Linked DNA regions of Homo sapiens. The protein of the gene in region 1 purifies or fractionates together with the protein of each later gene. This does not show direct contact. Each region holds a gene or a part of one and is shown on either strand. Other genes may lie near its edges.

Evidence for each region. Proteins that work in one complex are often made in the same cells at the same time.
Region 2: the proteins of KDSR (region 1) and FUT8 purify together in Homo sapiens (affinity purification with mass spectrometry; one large-scale study listed by BioGRID and IntAct). This does not show direct contact.
Region 3: the proteins of KDSR (region 1) and MGAT1 purify together in Homo sapiens (affinity purification with mass spectrometry; one large-scale study listed by BioGRID and IntAct). This does not show direct contact.
Region 4: the proteins of KDSR (region 1) and NDUFB5 purify together in Homo sapiens (affinity purification with mass spectrometry; one large-scale study listed by BioGRID and IntAct). This does not show direct contact.

Annotation. Positions count from the first base shown.
Region 1 is NC_000018.10:63,329,207-63,334,022, reverse strand, and holds part of KDSR (3-ketodihydrosphingosine reductase), read left to right. Parts: intron 1-2,121; coding exon 2,122-2,241; 3' UTR 2,242-4,816.
Region 2 is NC_000014.9:65,610,919-65,615,734, reverse strand, and holds part of FUT8 (alpha-(1,6)-fucosyltransferase), read right to left. Parts: intron 1-4,816. UniProt on the Homo sapiens protein: Catalyzes the addition of fucose in alpha 1-6 linkage to the first GlcNAc residue, next to the peptide chains in N-glycans.
Region 3 is NC_000005.10:180,792,302-180,797,117, reverse strand, and holds part of MGAT1 (alpha-1,3-mannosyl-glycoprotein 2-beta-N-acetylglucosaminyltransferase), read left to right. Parts: intron 1-1,242; exon of another isoform or gene 1,243-2,237; intron 2,238-2,751; exon of another isoform or gene 2,752-2,851; intron 2,852-4,020; 5' UTR 4,021-4,146; coding exon 4,147-4,816. UniProt on the Homo sapiens protein: Initiates complex N-linked carbohydrate formation. Essential for the conversion of high-mannose to hybrid and complex N-glycans.
Region 4 is NC_000003.12:179,617,483-179,622,298, reverse strand, and holds part of NDUFB5 (NADH dehydrogenase [ubiquinone] 1 beta subcomplex subunit 5, mitochondrial isoform 1 precursor), read right to left. Parts: intron 3,885-4,816; coding exon 3,778-3,884; intron 1-3,777.

The sequences.
Region 1 (4,816 bases):
GAGCTGAACAAATGCATGAATTCTTTTATGTTTTAATTTTTGGGCTGGCATGGTGGCTCACACCTGGCGTGTTGTCCTGGACTCCCCTGCTTCTGTCCCTCACGTCAGAGATCATTGTCATCCTTGTCACTCAGTTCTTCACATTCTTCCATTCTCTGCAATTCTGGCAGTGCTTCTGGAGCCCAGGCCTGGGTTGCCGCAGCAGGCCCCCTGCTTGAGTTACACACTTTTTGAGCCAGAGGTTGTAAACGATTCCCATGGGCCTGTAAAGCAGTTTTGTTGGGTCCATCTGGTGTGAGTGTGTGTGTTTAAGATTTTAAAATAGTTTTAAAATTAGGTTTTATATAAAAGGTCCAGATTTCAGACTTTTCTTGGAAAATCAGAAGGTTTAGCTGCACAGAGTCTGCATTCTTACCTGGCAGTCATCAGCAAGCACAGGTGGCAGCTGCTCCTGAGGGAGGAGCACAGTCCCTGCAACCACTATGGTCTGCAACCCCCTGCTCAGGCCCCCTGGATGCGTTTGAGTGTACCCTCACATTTTCCACACCAGTTGTTTCTAAACTGCAACTATACATTGCATGAAAACATTCAATGACTCCTTGATACCATCAGGATAAAGCTTTAAAAATTCCATTGCACCTGAGTATGGTGGCTCATGCCTATAATCTCAGCACTTTGGGAGGCCAAGTCAGGAGGATCGCTTGAGCTCAGGAGTTTGAGATCAGCCTGGGCAACATAGTGAGACCCTGTCTCTACAAAAAAATGTAAAAGAAAAGAAAGCCAGGCGTGGTGGTGTGTACCTGTATTCCTAGCAACTGGGAGACTTCTGCTTGAGTCCAGAAGTCTGAAGCTACAGTGAGCTGTGATCATACTCCTGCACTCCAGCCTGGGTGACAGAGCAAGACCCTGTCTCTAAAAAGGATTTAAAAATTAAAAAAATTTCCATCGCATGCCATAAACCACCTGATCTCCTACCCCACGTACCTTTCCAGGCTCTTTTTTTTCTTTCTTTCTTTACCCATCTTCTTCTTTTTGGAATCTTCTCTGTGTCCTGCCAACTTCTAATCCTTCAGGTCTCACCTTAAATATTGTTTTTTCCGGAAGATCCAAGGACTGGCTTCAGTGCTCTGAGGGTGTAGGGAAAAAAACAAAGGGATTTTTCTATTCTCTTTTTTTTTTTTTTTTTTTTTTGAGACGGAGTCTTGCTCTGTCACCCAGGCTGAAGTGCAGTGGCACGATCTCAGCTCACTGCACGCTCTGCCTCCTGGGTTCACACCATTCTCCTGCCTCAGCCTCCCCAGCAGCTTGGACTACAGGCGCACACCGCCACACGCGGATAATTTTTTTGTATTTTTAGTAGAGATGGGGTTTCACCGTGTTAGCCAGGATGGTCTCAATCTCCTGACCTCGTGATCCACCCGCCTCGGCCTCCCAAAGTGCTGGGATTACAGGCGTGAGCCACCGCGCCCGGCCTGATTTTTCCATTCTCTTATGCACGGGGACTCATGCCTATGGTCCCAGCTGCTTGGGAGGATGAGGCAGGAGAATCCTTTGAGTTTGGGAGGTCAAAGCTATAGTGAGCCGCGTTCATGCCACTGCACTCCATCCTGAGCAACAGGATATCAGTAATCACGGGTCTCAACCCTGAGGCAGTAGTTTCAATTTTACTTGTCTTTCCAGCCTGAGAATAAGCTCATTGAGGGCAGGGACTGTGTCTCTCACCACAGTGTTCACAGCACCTAGTATAGGGTCTCGCTTTCATGCTCAGAACATAAATTGCAAACCAAAAAAGCCTTGATTGTAGTTTGGCTATTTGAGATGCTGCAGTGGGTCTTTTTAAAGCTATTATAACCCTAAGACTGCAAGCAATATATATTTTATTCTGCTTATGGTTTGAATTTATTAATTGGACAAATATTTTGTTATGTATCTGGGCTGTCCAGCGGTGCAGAGCACACACATTCTGTTCTCACAGCTTACTGACATTTACAGAGTTTTCATTATATTCATCCTTAGAGCAGACTAGAAGATTTGTCTTAGAAACTGTTTGTTAGAGACCTAGGTACCTTGAAATAGTCTTGTACCGTTGGATGCACTAAAAGCTCTCTCTTTATCTTGCAGGTGGTCACCATGGGCCTTTTCCGCACTATTGCTTTGTTTTACCTTGGAAGTTTTGACAGCATAGTTCGTCGCTGCATGATGCAGAGAGAAAAATCTGAAAATGCAGACAAAACTGCCTAATCTTCTTACCCCTTGGAAGAAGACTGTTTCCAAATAATTTGAACAGCTTGCTGCTAAATGGGACCCAATTTTTGGCCTATAGACACTTATGTATTGTTTTCGAATACGTCAGATTGGACCAGTGCTCTTCAGGAATGTGGCTGCAAGCAAGGGGCTAGAAGTTCACCTCCTGACAGTATTATTAATACTATGCAAATATGGAATAGGAGACCATTTGATTTTCTAGGCTTTGTGGTAGAGAGGTGAAGGTATGAGAATTAATAGCGTGTGAACAAAGTAAAGAACAGGATTCCAGAATGATCATTAAATTTGTTTCTATTTATTCTTTTTTGCCCCCCTAGAGATTAAGTCCAGAAATGTACTTTCTGGCACATAAAGAAATCTTGAGGACTTTGTTTAAACCTTCCATAAAAAAACAATTTTCGGTTTCTCGGGTTCTCTCTCTCTCTCTCTCTGTCTCTCTGTCTCTCTGTCTCTCTGTCTCTCTGTCTCTCTGTCTCTCTCTCTCTCTCTCTTTCTTTCTTTGTGTATTTTATTCAAGATGAGTTGGACCCATTGCCAGTGAGTCTGAATGTCACTGACAGCCCTGTGTTGTGCTCAGGACTCACTCTGCTGCTGGTGGAAACTCATGGCTTCTCTCTCTCTTTGATCCCATAAAGCTACGAGGGGGACGGGAGAGGGCAGTGCAATGGGAAGTAAAGAGATATTTTCCAGTAGGAAAAGCAATGCTTTCTTGTCTTTAGACTCAAATGCTTAGGGAACGTTTCATTTCTCATTCATGGGGAAAGGCAGCCTCCTTAAATGTTTTCTGAAGAGCGGTAAAATCTAGAAGCTTAAGAATTTACAGTTCCTTCAATAACCATGATGACCTGAAGTTCACCTATCCCATTTTAGCATCTACTTGTTTTTCCCATCTCTTCCTTTCCAATTTTGCTTATACTGCTGTAATATTTTTGTAAAAAAAAAAAAAAAGGAAAAAAAAGACCAGCTAAAATTTTCGACTTGACTTTTTAACTTAACTCATGAATTAATTAAAGCAAATGAAAAAATTAAAAAGTGTGACTTTTTCTCGGAGCATATATGTAGCTTTTAGGAAAGGCTGATGATGGTATAAAGTTTGCTCATTAAGAAAAAAAGACAAGGCTGATTTTGAAGAGAGTTGCTTTTGAAATAAAATGATCACCTGTTCTTTATGTGACTCTCCCACTGAACCTGCAGACATTATTTTTATACCACATGCTAAGGAAGCCCACTCATCTAACTCTGTAGCCCTGGAAACCCTCTTGGCCCCTGAATGTTGTTTCCAGGTTATAGGATCTGTGTTCATTAGTGGATTTTGACAGCAAGTGCCTCTGATGAGTTTTAGCCAACATTCCCCGTTGCATCCTGCTCATTGTTCACACTCCTCTGACTTGAGGAGAGCTGCCTTCACCTTGATCTTGTAACCTGTCTTCCTTGCATATACGGTAGCACATTCCAGATCACTTCGGTGAGAAAAGACCTCTGTTTTTGAAGAGGAAACTTTCTTAAATTGTAAAATAAAACTTAAAAAACATAAAAACTCTATACAAAAATTGAAGACCTAAAAATTATAGCATACCTTTTTTTTGCTCTTGAGTTTTTGAAGCTCTTGACTTTAAATGACTTAACTTTTTAAAAAATAAGATGTTTTATGGCTTTAACCCATGTTTTTATTAAGATCTGAGAATAGCATATTTTAAACACTGATAGATACAGAAGAAATTATTATTTAATATATAAATTGCTTGGAATGATTTCATTGCAGCTTGTAAGGATGGGTTGATGCCAGAATGGTTTCATAAATCTTTCAGTCTTACAGAGCCAAAGTTTGCAGATTATATCGAGTTGCGTTGTGCAGCTGCTAAAATGGAATCATAGCTTTTTATAATTTGCAGAAAACAATTGCATTAATGTCTGGATGTTTCTCAGTTTTATTCTTTTCTCATAAATGTTCCTCGAATGTTGGCACCTTCTACTGCTGATCTATATTAGAATCTAGTCCAAGAAAGTGTCTGATTTAATAACATTAAATAGTTATTTCAATATATTTTTTCAAATTATCCTCATAGAACCTGTTGCCTCCAGTGAGATGGTAATCTACTACCCGAATAAATTTAAGAGCACCTGTTGAGAGCCCCTGTTTTGCGGTAGAAGACAATTGTCCCTATCCCAATTTCCACTGAAATATGAGAGCAGATTTGCAGAGACCATCATGTCAGAGAAGAAATTTCCTTGTCAGAGATGTTAAAGGGCTACAGTCCCTTAGCAAAGAAACTTCGAAATCTAAGTTGGTTTGTGTTTTTCTAAATTTGATACCGTAATTCATTTGGCAGCAAAATCTGACTTGAACTGATGTGAGAGTATTGTACTTTATATTTATGCTACTTCATTGTGACTTAATTTTCCCTGAAGAAATATCCATGGATTTGATTATAGGTTTTCCCTTAGATGCTGTGGAGGTGTTTTGTAATATTCAAAATATGCCCATATTGCCTTTTTAAAACCCCAAAGATTATGAATTCTGAAACACATCCAGCCCAGCGGGTTTTGGATA
Region 2 (4,816 bases), on another chromosome or scaffold:
GTTAACAAACCTCTAGAGCTGTTTCCTAAAAATCTTTCATCCCCAGAGTACCATGATCAGTGGCAAAGAGGTCAATTATTCATTAGCATTGAGAGTAACAAAAGTGAAGGAAAAAGTAAAGAAAAGGCTTAAAGGGAATAACGAAGCATATCTGAACATGTGTCTAAGGACATGCTCAAACATCAAATATAATGTATTTCTAAATTAATTATAATATCAGACTATGTAAATCTGTCTTTCAATTCATGACATTAGACTACTAAGCATTGGTCTTATATAGAAAAAAGAAAGACAAGAGTAGAAGATAAAACATATTAGAAAAAAATTGGGCCAGGTGTAGCCACTCATGCCTATAATCCCAGCACTTTGGGAGGCCCAGGTAGGAGGATTACTTGAGCCCAGGAGTTCATGGCCAGCCTGGGCAACACAGCAATCCCCCATCATTACAAAAATGAAAACATTAGCTGGGCACATGGTGGTGTGTGCCTGCAGTCCCAGCTACTCAGGAAGCTAAGGAAGGAGGATGGCTTGAACCATCCTTGAACCATAGTTCAAGATTACAATGAACTATGATCATGTCACTGCATTCTAGTGTAGGCAGCAGAGTGAAACCCTGTCTCGAAAAAATAAAAATAAAAAATTGAAGATCATTGTTCTATTCATTTCTATCAGCAACAAAAACAATCAGTCAATAATATAAAAGCTGGAACACAGAACAGCAATCCAAGATCTCTTACTTATATTATCAACCTCTCTGTTCAACTTAATTCCAAACTGTGCTTGTTCCTGTTTTGTTTTTATGTGACTTATGGCAGTATACTGTACTCCACTTTGATGTACATAATACAATTTCGTGGTAGGCTAAACAAAGGTCTCCCAAAGATATCCATAACCTAATCATGAAATCTGTGAATATTACTCTTTATGGCAAAAGAAACTCTGAATATATAATTAAGGATTTTGAGATTGGATTATCTAGGTGAGCCATTTTGTAATAACAAGTGTCTTCATAAGAGGAAGGTAGAAGAAGATTTTACTACAGAAGAGGAAAAGGTTATGTGGCTGTTAGCTTTGAAGATGGAAGAAGCAACCATGAGCAAGGAAGACATTTTTAGAAACTGGAAAAGGCAAACGAACGAACAAACAAAAATACCCCAGATGCTCTCCTAGAGCTTCTCTAGGGAATCCAGCCCTCCTGACATCTTGGTTTCAGTGCAGTGAAACTCAATTCAGATCTCTGGCCTCCAAAACTCTTAAGAGAATAAATTTATGTTGTTTTAAGCCATAAAGTTTGTGGTATTTGTCAAAGCAGCAATAGGAAATTAATACGTACATATATTGATCCTTTTACAAAATTGTCCTAAAGATTAAATAGCTGATTTTTCTTTCAAAGTCTATTTAAATGAGGAAATGTCTGTAAAAGTACTTAGCAGTGTCTGGCAATAAATTTTATGAAGGCTACTATTATATCTGAGCTTTGTCATTTTAGAGATGAGCTGTAATCTCAAAAAGTCTGGGCTATCTATTCTTACCATCATGACCAGTTTAAGGGAACTTAAGTTTTAAATTATAGTTGGCAGAACTTAAATTCAGATGTCAACACAGTCTTTTTTTTTTTTTTTTGACACAGTCTCGATTTGTCACCCAGGCTGGAGTACAGTGATGGGATCTTGGCTTGCCACAACCACTGCCTCCCAGATTCAAATGATTCTCGTGCCTCGGCCTCCTGAGCAGATGGGATTACGGGAATGCACCACCATCCCTGGCTAATTTTTTTACATTTTTAGTAGAGACGGGGTTTCATTGGGTTGGCCAGGCTGGTCTAAAACTCCTGGCCTCAAGTGATCCGCCCACCTCAACCTCCCAAAGTGCTGAATTACAGGTATGAGCCACGGCGCCCAGCCAACATAGCCTTTTGAGGCAAACACTCTGATACGAAAGGTTTTTTATAGCTTCTCTAACATTTTCTATATAACCTGATAAAGCCAAATTAACTGTCAATTACCTACACTACTTCAGAACACGTTTAATAAAGTAGCTATTGTTACAGCTATACCAAAGTAATTGGAGACATTTTATAATTTCCTGTAAAATTGTACGCATTAACATTGAACAGGAGCATAAAAAGTAACTATCCTCCAATCATGAGTGTCCAAGGCTACAGAATATGAATGAAAAAGCCTTCATTTGTATAAGCACAAAGCGAATAATAAAAAATGAATACAGTAGTTAGGTGCACAATTACCCAATTTATGAGCACGCATACATTCACAAATGAGGCATGTCCTGGTATATAGTTTTTTAAAGTTATGTTTCTAAGACTTGGCTCTTAATCTCTTTGTGAATTAGGTGGCTGGTTTCTAGGAAACAATTTGAAAATAGAATAAAACTTCAATCTCTTGGGATTTATTTTGGCAGCAATATACTATAGGACAGGAATGTCCTTTTTCAGAACATATGTTAGTGATAGAAAAATTGACAATAGAAAGATTATGTCTAGGTTCTCCTTTTTATCTCTTTCTTCAAATATTGGTGGAATAAACATCAGAGGCAAAACAGCCATGAAAAAAATAGCATGTGATCTTTTCAGTAGCTTTCCACAAAGAGTTCCAATCTAATTCTAATAAAACATAATGGAATTAGTAATCCATATTGCCTAATAATCTAATCCAACTGTGAAAAAAAAAACTGGAAAAGAAAATTACTGGAAAAATCACTCTAAAAAAAAAATACAGGAGAACTATTCTTTCCAAACTCCATCCAGAAAAGAGTCAATATGCACGAACAGTCTCTTTTCTGAATACTTAGGGAACAGAATGCTTTCTTACATTCACCATGCCAAAGATACAGATATATAAGACTTCCACTTCTAGCCAAGACATTTACCATCCTGCCTGAAACAACTCAAAATCCAGGTTAGATGTATTAAACAATGATCTAATAAAATTGCAATCAGGCAACAAAGGGCAGTGATCACCAGAGAAGGAAAACAAATGATGATAGCCCTGTGACTGTCCCAGCTTACTGCATTCAGAGAGTTTCCAGACCACAGTGTATGGAGGGGAAATGCAGATGGAGCCAGTACATTCACTGAGTTGAAGAAATGGAGCTAAGAGTCTAAAAAGACCAAGACAGAGTTTGAATAAGAGAGAACTGTAGAGGACAGAGAATTCCAGAAATCTGCAAAGGTACCATTTTGGAATTAGCAGAGTACTCATCAGCACACACACATAAGGAACTACTCAGGCTGGGGAAAGAACTCTCTAAAAGGATTAGAGGAAGTAGTACCTGGCATTCATACAGATTAGGTAGAAACAGTTCCTGATCCTATCAGCCAGACTAGAAAACCGTAATTCATGGGATGCTGGGTAAAATGCTCAGAAGGATTTGGCCTCAATAGCAGGAAAATGTGCCCCAGACCAAACATTGCTTAGGTCCCACTTAACAATTATTAAAAGACAAAATAGGATCAAATTATTTTAAAATAACATAACTACATCCCAGAACAAAATTTAAGAATATTTGTAAATTATACAAGACCTTCTAGTAACAAACAAGGTAAAATTCATGTCTGGAATCCACAAAAGTTACCAGGCTTGCAAAAAAACAAGAAAAGACAACCCATAAAGAAGAGTGAAATCAATCTATCAAAACCAACTCAAAACTGACACAGATGTTAGAATCACCATAGAAATAACAGTTATTATGACTGTATTTCATATGTTCAAAAGTTAGAGACAGGGAAGATATAAAAAAGATGTTAAAATTTTAATAGGCCAGGTGCGGTGGCTCACGCCTGTAATCCCAGCACTTTGGGAGGCTGAGGCAGGCAGATCACCTGAGGTCAGGAGTTCAAGACCAGCCTGGCCAACATGGTGAAATACTGTCTCTATGAAAAATACAAAAATTAGCCAGGCATGGTGGCAGACGTCTGTAATCCCAGCTACTCAGGAGGCTGAGGCAGGAGAACTGCTTGAACCCAAGAGGCAGAGGTTGCAGTGAGTCGAGATCACGCCTTTGAACTCCAGCCGGGGTGGCAGAGTGAGACTCCATCTCAGAAAAAAGAAAGAAAGAAAGAAAAAATTTTAATAGATACCCAAGTTGAACTACTACAGATGAAAACTATAATGTCTGAAATGAAAAATATAAAGAATGAGATTTACTGCAGATTATATATTGTAGCGTCTACCCTAAGAAACTAAGAAAAAAAGAGCAAATGAAACTCCAATTAAGTGGAAGAAACGAAGTAATAAAGATCAGAGAGACGATCAATGAAATGGAGAAAAAGAAAAATAGATAAAAACCAATGAAAACTAAAATCTGGTTCTTTAAAAAAAAAAGAAAGAAAATCAATTAAACTGGCAGACTTTTTCCTAATAAATATTTTCGGTTTTATAGGCCAACAAGCAAAATCAAGGCTATTACTTGGGGGGTGTGTGTGTGTGTGTGTGTGTGTGTGTGTGTGTGTGTGTGTGTGTGTGTGTGTGTGTGTGTGTGTGTGTGTGTGTGTGCGCGCGCGCGCGCGCGCGCGCGCGCGTGTGTGTGTGTGTATGACACTTAAAATGTAACAACTTAAAAATGGAAAATCATTCTTAGCTTGCTGGCCATGAAAAAAAGAGGTGGTTGGTAGGATGTGACCCATGAGCCATAGTTTGCCAACCCCTATTGTAGCCACACTGGGCAAAAAAACCTAGAGGGACTACTTCTTTCTATAAAGTTAGTATTATCTGGATATCAAACCAGAGAAAGATATAGTAAGAAAAAAAATTACAGAACAGTATCTCTCATGAACACCAATATAAAAATTATAAAAAAA
Region 3 (4,816 bases), on another chromosome or scaffold:
CCCTTCTAAGCCATGCAGAGCAGCACTTCACTGAATAGAGTTCAGTCCCTCTTCTCCATCCCCATCCTGTTATATAAAGTCTTTTTCTTGCACAGTCATTTAGGAGGTGGGAAGTTGGGAGACAGGGAATCCTGGCCATTAGATTGGAGGGAAAGTTCCAACATGGACAACATCCTGAGGGGAGAGCGAAGAAGAAACTGAAACTCTTCTGGGCCCAGTGGCTCACACCTGTAATCCCAGCACTTTGGGAGGCTGAGGAGGGTGGATCACTTGAGGTCAGGAGTTCAACACCAGCCTGGCCAACATGGTGAAAGCCCGTCTCTATTAAAAATACAAAAATTAGCTGGGCGTGGTGGCAGGCACCTGTAATCCCAGATACTCGGGAGGCTGAGGCAAGAGAGTCGCTTGAGCCTGGGAGGCAGAGGTTGCAGTGAGCTGAGATCATGCCACTGTACTCCAGCCTGGGCAACAGACAGAGTGAGACTCTGTCTCAAAAAAAAAGAAAAAAAACTGAAACTCTTTTGTGCATCACTCTTTTCTTCCACATAAACTTTCTTAAAAATCAAATATGGGGATATGGCCCACAGCTCTGAGTAGCTTCATCCATCTGTATGGCCCCAGCTGGGCACAGCAGTAAGGCCAACTGAAACGACGTTTGCCCTGAATTTCTCGGTCACTTGACAACATGTATCTAATTGATACATAATATTTGAGCCCTGATATAATAGAATTTAATTGCACAGTTACATGGAAACAGACTTGACGTTTCTGAGAAGACTGATGTCCTGGCGTGGTGGGGGTGGTTGGTTTCTAGGAAGAAGACAAGTGGTTGGTGGTGAATGCTGGCAGGGGCTGGTGAAGTCTCCCCAGGAGGGAGACAGAATCCATGTCTCTTTAGAGGCCCTTCAGGATCAGCCCTTTTATACCAGATCTGCTGGTTTGAGAGCCCAGAGCCTCAGAGGTTAGATCTGAGGCCCAAGGTTTTGGCCAGGATTAGAGAGTAGCCTGTGAGGCAGAGGGCAACTGGCAGAGCTGTTGGTGTAAGAGGGTGCACGCCTGAAGCTTTGGGGTGTAAAGGGTAGACCAGAGGCAGGACAGTCAAGGAGTTATGGTCTGGAGTGGCAGCTGGCTGGGAATTGGGGAGTGTTTCAGATCCTTTCAAGTAATGTGGTCTGGTAGAGCTTGGAGGATTGGTGGGACCATGCCTTTTTCTCACTGGTTTGTGTCCTGGTTCCTTCCCAGAGCCTGGCAGAGAGCAGGTGTGTGATACACGTCGTCAGGTGACTGACCGAGGAATTCAGGGCAAACAGATCATCTCAATTTGCCTTGCTGATGTGCCAGCTGGGATTACGCTGATGGATGAAGCTCTTCAGAGCTATGGGCAATATCTACATATTTGATTGTCAAGAAACTTCGTGTGGAAATAGCTTCAAACTTACACAAATTGCAAGAATAAAAAATAGTATAAGGATATTCGTACACACTCTCTTTACTCAGATTCACCTGTTAATATTTTGCTCCATTTGCTCTCTATGTGTGCAGAGTATGTTTTTGTTCTGAACCATTTGAGAAGTTGCATCTATCCTGGTCCTCTACTTCTCAATACTTCAGTGTGTATTACCTAAGAATTGGAATTAATCAGTTATCACTGATACTTTAACCTACTGTCCATATTCCACCTTTGTCATTTTACCCAATAACGTCTTTTTAAAAAAAGTTTTTTGAGGTTTCATTGACATACAATTGATATCAATATGTGCAAAGAACTGCATATAAAGTGTACAATTTGATAAGTTTTGACATATATGTGTGTGTGTGTATATATATATATATATATATACCTGTAAAAGTATCACCACAATCAAGATAATAAACATATCCACCCTTCTAGAAGCTTCCTAATGCCCCTGTGTAGTAACTACCCTACTGCCCTTCTCTGCCTCCATCCCCAGGCAACAACTGATCTGCTTTCTGTAATATAGATTAGTTTCTATTTTCGGCAGTTTTATGTCAATGGAATCACAGTGTATGTGCTCTTTTTTGTTTTTCCCAAAAAGACCCATATTGTGTAATTATTTGGAGATTGTGTTGTGTATGTCAGTGGTTTATTCAGTTTTATTGCTGAATATTATTCCATTCTATGAGTAAACCACAATTTGTTTATCTGTATTTCCCTGTTGATGGGCCTTTGGGTTATTTCCAGTTTTGAGTGATTATGAATAAAGTTACCATCAACACTCCTGTGTAGGTTTTTGTAGGGACATGGCTGAAAGTAGAAAGAAATGGGGCATGCAGGAGAGACTGGGCTTGGTTATAACAGCCTGTTATCCCTGGGGAACTAGCTCACTCACCAGAGGACGTTAGGAAGGATCTGCCCCTGCCCCCCTTGTGATCCAAACACCTACCACTAGACCCCACCTCCGGCAGCACCACCACACAGGGGATCAAATCCCAACATGTGTTTCAGAGAACAAACCATATTCAAGCTATAGCATAGCTACGTAATTATTATAACACTATTAATAAGACCATCTTTGCCTTGGGAATTTTAAGTAGCACCTTTATTACATATTAGATTTTTTTGTGTAATGAGTCTGTTTCTGGAGCTTAAATTCTATTTCACTGGATGGTCTGTTTATTTATGTACCAGTACCACGCAGTTGTAATTATGGAGGTTTTGTAGTATGCCATATATATATATATATAATAAAAAAAAATTTTTTTGAGACAGAGTCTCACTCTCTTGCCCAGGCTGGAGTGCAATGGCACAATCCAATCACAGCTCACTACAGCCTCAGCCTCCCAGACTCAGGTGATCCCATCTCAGCCTCCTGAGTAGCTGGGACCACAGGTGCGTGCCACCATGCCCAGCTTTTTTTTTTTTTTTTTTTAATTGTTACTTGTAGAGACAGGGTCTCCGTGTGCTGCCCAGGCTATTCTTGAACTCCTGGGCTCAAGTGATCCTCCTGTATTGGCCTCCCAAAGTGCTGGGATTGCAGGTAGGAGCTACTGCATCTGGCCAGTATGCAGTATTTTCATATCTGGTAGGGCTGAGTCCCTCCTCACAGCTTATTTTTATTGTTTTCCTAGTTTTTCATGTGAACTTTACTGTCAGTTCGTCTAGCTCCATAAAAAGGTATTTTTATTGGGATTTTTGATGATGCTGAAATGTCCTGACCAAGAACAAGGGATATTCAGATGTTCTTTTGTGTCTTTCAGGAATGATAGTTTTGTTCACATAAGTTTTGAATGTTTAAGTTTATTTAAGTTTATTTCTAAATATTTTCTCATTTCTCTGGCTTTTGTAAGTAGGGTTTTCTCATCCATGTTTTCTTCTCATGAGTTATTTGTGGATATGAAGGCTATCCATTAGTATATGTTGATTTTTATATTACACTTCCTTGCTCAGTTCATTATTGATTCTTTTTGAGTTTTCCAGGCATATTCTCACAAGTAAAGATAATAGAAATAGTTTGCTTCCTTTCCACTTCTGCTTTGAATTTTTTTTTCTTGGTTCATTTGCATTGGCTGCTTCCTCCAGCAAAATGTTAAATAACCCTGGAGATGATGGGCAACTTCGTTTTGCTCCTGACATTCGTGGGGTGCCTCTGGTGCTTCCCTGTTGGTAAGGGGTTAACTGTAGCCCTGAGGTGGGACATTTGATTTTAAAAATCAGTCATCTTGGGGCGCTTAGGTTAGAGGAATGGTAGGCAGATGCTGTCACTCCTTGCCCCTCCCCTCCTCCTTCCCACCTGGAGGGGAAATGAAATCTGACAGGTAGAAAGAGGGGAGTTGGGGTTCTTTTTCTCTCTCCCTCCACCAGCATCACTCTCTGCCTCTCCCTCAAAAATACGTTCCTGGGTCAGGATATATGTTGACTCCCTAGAGAGCTCTGGAGTCAACCTCCTGGCCTTCCTCCACCCTCACTCTTGGCCTTTTCCTGCCCCCATTTCCTCTACCTGTGGGGCATGGAGCCACGAGCCTTTGTGTGACGGTTTGCTTTCTCTCTCCTGTCTTTAGGTGCATGGCTGCCTCCTAATCCCATAGTCCAGAGGAGGCATCCCTAGGACTGCGGGCAAGGGAGCCGGGCAAGCCCAGGGCAGCCTTGAACCGTCCCCTGGCCTGCCCTCCCCGGTGGGGGCCAGGATGCTGAAGAAGCAGTCTGCAGGGCTTGTGCTGTGGGGCGCTATCCTCTTTGTGGCCTGGAATGCCCTGCTGCTCCTCTTCTTCTGGACGCGCCCAGCACCTGGCAGGCCACCCTCAGTCAGCGCTCTCGATGGCGACCCCGCCAGCCTCACCCGGGAAGTGATTCGCCTGGCCCAAGACGCCGAGGTGGAGCTGGAGCGGCAGCGTGGGCTGCTGCAGCAGATCGGGGATGCCCTGTCGAGCCAGCGGGGGAGGGTGCCCACCGCGGCCCCTCCCGCCCAGCCGCGTGTGCCTGTGACCCCCGCGCCGGCGGTGATTCCCATCCTGGTCATCGCCTGTGACCGCAGCACTGTTCGGCGCTGCCTGGACAAGCTGCTGCATTATCGGCCCTCGGCTGAGCTCTTCCCCATCATCGTTAGCCAGGACTGCGGGCACGAGGAGACGGCCCAGGCCATCGCCTCCTACGGCAGCGCGGTCACGCACATCCGGCAGCCCGACCTGAGCAGCATTGCGGTGCCGCCGGACCACCGCAAGTTCCAGGGCTACTACAAGATCGCGCGCCACTACCGCTGGGCGCTGGGCCAGGTCTTCCGGCAGTTTCGCTTCCCCGCGGCCGTGGTGGTGGAGGATGACCTGGAGGTGGCCCCGGACTTCTTCGAGTACTTTCGGG
Region 4 (4,816 bases), on another chromosome or scaffold:
AAAAACAGGCTGGGCAAGCTGACTCATGCCTGTAATCCCAGCACTATGGGAGGCCAAGGCAGGAAGACTGCTTGAGCCCAGGAGTTCGAGATCAGCCTGGCCAACAGAGCAAGATCCCATCTCTACCAAAACAAACAAACAAACAAAAAAACCCCCCTAAACAATTAGTTGGGCATGGTGGCCAGCACCTGTGGTCCCAGCTACTCAGGAGGCTGAGGCTGGAGGACTGCTTAAGCCCAGGAGGTCGGGGCTGCAGTGAGCCATGACTGCAACACTGCACTCCAGCTGAGGCAACAGAACGAGATCCTGTCTCAAAAAAAGAAAAGGAAGACATGGTGAATATTAAAAAAAATAATTTTGGAATTACATATTTACTGATTTAATTATCATCAGAGATCTCTGTATGACACAAAATCCCAAAAGCTAAAGACTGTCAAACCTGACAATAATTATAAATGAGTAAATACATAGAAAGTAATTAAAACACTGATATTAAATGTACTCAAAAATTTATTAGCGGCCAGGTATGGTGGCTCACGTATGTAATCCCAGCACTTTGGGAGGCTGAGGCAGGCAGATCACTTGAGGCCAGGAGTTCAAGACCAGCCTGGCAAAACCCGGTCTCTACTAAAAATACAAAAATTTGCGGGGTGTGGTGGCGGGCGCCTGTAATCCCAGCTACTCGGGAGGCTGAGGCAGAATCGCTTGAACCCGGAAAGCAGAGGTTGCAGTGTGCCGAGACCACGCCACTGTACTCCAGCCTGGGAGACAGAGCAAAACTGTCTCAAAAAAAAAAAAAAAAGAAAAAGAAAATATTATTAGTTACTATTACAGATTTGTTACCTGAAAATGTAAAAACACTTCTGTGTTGCAAAAATTTCTACACTGCCAAAAGACAATATATAGAGAAAGAAATACACATAGCCAGGTGCAGTGGCTCACGCCTGTAATCTCAGCATTTTGGGAGGCCCAGAGGGTGGATCGCTTGAACCCAGGTGTTTGAGAGCAGCCTAGGCAACACGGTGAAACTATGTCTTTACAAAAAATACAAAAATTAACTGGGCATGGTGTCATGCACCTGTAATCTTGGCTACTAGGGAGGCTTGGGTGGGAGGACAGCTTGAACCCAGGAGACCAAGGCTGCAGTGAGTCAAGATCATGCCACTGTACTCCAGCCTGGGCAACAGAGCAAGACTTTGTCTCGGGCGGGGGGAAGAAAGAAAAGAAATACACACAATTAATAGATATTAAAAAAACTACTCAACTTTACAAAGAAATATAAAATTGAAATGATGAGGTAACATTTTTCAATTACCCTATCAACAAAAATGTTTCACTTTGATAAATTCCATTACAGAGAAACATGGAAAACTGAAACATGGAAACTGATGAAGAAACAACTGGTGCAACTTTTTGGAGAAGAGTTTGGCAATATCTACCCAAAGTTTAAAAGCATGTGCTATTTGGCTTATTAATGCCACTTCCAGAAATTTATTTTCCAGATATGTTACATAAATATGCAAACAATATGGGGGAAAATTAAACACAGCAGTATGTACAATAGCAAAAAACTTGGAAAGAACCCAAGTACCAGCAATAGGGGACTGGTTAAAAAAACACAGGCACTCCAAGTCAATCCTAAGCCAAAAGAACAAAGCTGGAGGCATCACGCTACCTGACTTCAAACTATACTACAAGGCTACAGTAACCAAAACAGCATGGTACTGGTACCAAAACAGAGATATAGACTAATGGAACAGAACAGAGCCCTCAGAAATAATGCCGCATATCTACAACTATCTGATCTTTGACAAACTTGACGAAAACAAGAAATGGGGAAAGGATTCCCTATTTAATAAATGGTGCTGGGAAACTGGCTAGCCATATGTAGAAAGCTGAAACTGGATCCCTTCCTTACACCTTATACAAAAATTAATTCAAGATGGATTAAAGACCTAAATGTTAGACCTAAAACCATAAAAACCCCAGAAGAAAACCTAGGCAATACCATTCAGGATATAGGCATGGGCAAGGACTTCATGTCTAAAACACCAAAGGCAATGGCAACAAAAGCCAAAATTGACAAATGGGATCTAATTAAACTAAAGAGCTCTGCACAGCAAAAGAAACTACCATCAGAGTGAACAGGCAACCTACAGAATGGGAAAAAATTTTTGCAATATACTCATGTGACAAAGGGCTAATATCCAGAATCTACAATGAACTCAAACAAATTTACAAGAAAAAAACAAACAACCCCATCAAAAAGTGGGCAAAGGATATGAACAGACACTTCTCAAAAGAAGACATTTATGCAGCCAAAAGACACATGAAAAAATATTCATATCACTGGCCATCAGAGAAATGCAAATCAAAACCACAATGAGATACCATCTCACACCAGTTAGAATGGTGATCATTAAAAAGTCAGGAAACAACAGGTGCTGGAGAGGATGTGGAGAAATAGGAACACTTTTACACTGTTGGTGGGACTGTAAACTAGTTCAATCATTGTGGAAGTCAGTGTGGCGATTCCTCAGGGATCTAGAACTAGAAATACCATTTGACCCAGCAATCCCATTACTGGGTATATACCCAAAGGATTATAAATCATGCTGCTATAAAGACACATGCACACATATGTTTACTGTGGCACTATTCACAATAGCAAAGACTTGGACAAGCCAAATGTCCAACAGTGATAGACTGGATTAAGAAAATGTGGCACATACACACCATGGAATACTATGCAGCCATAAAAAATGATGAGTTCATGTCCTTTGTAGGGACATGGATGAAGCTGGAAACCATCATTCTTAGCAAACTATCGCAAGGACAAAAAACCAAACACTGCATGTTCTCAGTCATAGGTGGGAATTGAACAATGAGAACACATGGACACAGGAAGGGGAACATCACACACTGGGGCCTGTTGTGGGGTGGGTGGAGGGGGGAGGGATAGCATTAGGAGATATACCTAATGTTAAATAATGAGTTAATGGGTGCAGCACACCAACACGGCACATGTATACATAACTAACCTGCATGTTGTGCACATGTACCCTAAAACTTAAAGTATAATTAAAAAAAAAAAAAAAAAAACAGGCACTCAGCACCATAAGAGAGGGGAAAAAATATATGTGTCTAGCTTTTTAATATGTATATAAAATATAATGTATAAGAAAGAAAATCCACATAGCTTTCCATAACAGCATATATCCCTTTCTTTTTAATGGCCACATTATATATTTCACTGGATGGATATACCCATCCATCTGCTTCCCAGCTGGGGCAACAGAGCAAGACTTCCACTCTAAAAAAAAATTCAAAAATTTAAAAAAGAACTCTTTAATCTGACACATATCTCCTAATAGTCTCCTTGTCACCAGTTTATAGTTTTCACTCCAAACAAGCTAATTCTATCTTTATCCATTTTTTTTTTCCTTTGGAGACGGAGTCTCACACTGCCACCCAGGCTGCAGTGCAGTGGCATGGTCTTGGCTCACTGCAACCTCTGCCTCCTAGGTTGAAGTGATTCTTCTGCCTCAGCCTCTTGAGTAGCTGGGATTACAGGCACGTACCACCACGCCCGGCTAATTTCTGTAGCCTCCCAAAGTGCTGGGATTACAGGTGTGAGCCACTGCATCTGGACGTATCTTTATCCTTTTACATAAAGTATCCTATAGTGCTGAAATATTCATAGTTTTATTAATTTTTTCTGGTGGTTTGCTACCTTAGGAAGATTTTCTTTCCCACCTACCCCCTCGTTTTTCCTACCGTAATTCAGCCTTTTCAGCTTCAATCTGAAGGACGGCCATTGTTCTTTCATATATCTTTTCAGGACTATCATAGAAATTACGGGCAATCCATCTTGATATGGGATGCTACAAGAGAAAATTCGTTTAATATTAGTCCATTTCTGAATAATACTTTGCTTTTCTAGTTGACTATTCTTTAAAATGATCATTTCAGTTAGATAAACCAGTAACATCTACTATGTAACTAATATACCTATATATAAAATAATTTTAACAGATGAGGTGGATACTATTTTTGTCCGCATTTTAAAGATAAGTGAATTGCACAAAGTTACGTAGCTAATAAATGGCAGCACCTGGACTCAAACCAGGTCTGTCTGACTCCAAAGCTGTGTACTCTTTTCCATTACACTATGCTGAGTATCTTAGGTGGCAGATTCAGAAGACAAACCCAGGTTTTGGTAATTCAAAAATGGAGCTCTTTGCACCAGTTAGCATAAACAAACTAAGTGTAAGGTCTGCCTTAAGATTTAATGGTTTAAGATTTGTATTTAAAATATAATTCATTCAGATAATAAAACATGATGGGATATACTCCATTCAAGGCTCACAATAACACTTGTTAAAACAAGTAACAAAATTAATTTTGGATTTTGGTAGCAGTGGCAGTATGGTATAATGACCAACAGTTCAGGCTCTGGAGTCAAAGTTGCCCGGGTTGAAATAGTGACCCCATCTAGACAGGTCACTTAACTCTTTTAGCCTCACTTTCTTCATCTACAAAGAGGGAATAATAATAGTACATTTTACATGGGATGAAATAATAAATATTTGTAAAACACTCAGCACAGTACCTGTTACATAGTAGGTGCTCAATAAATGACAGCTAGCATTAACATTGGTGAAGTCTCTCCTAAGGCATTGAACTTAGGATAAATTATGTTACTCTGTTAGGCTGAGAACACACTGCAATCATTCTTTAAAAAATTGTAAAGCTTAAAATGATTTTTTTAAAAATGAAGTACCAAAATTCGTTGTTTATAAAAAGTATGCAAAAA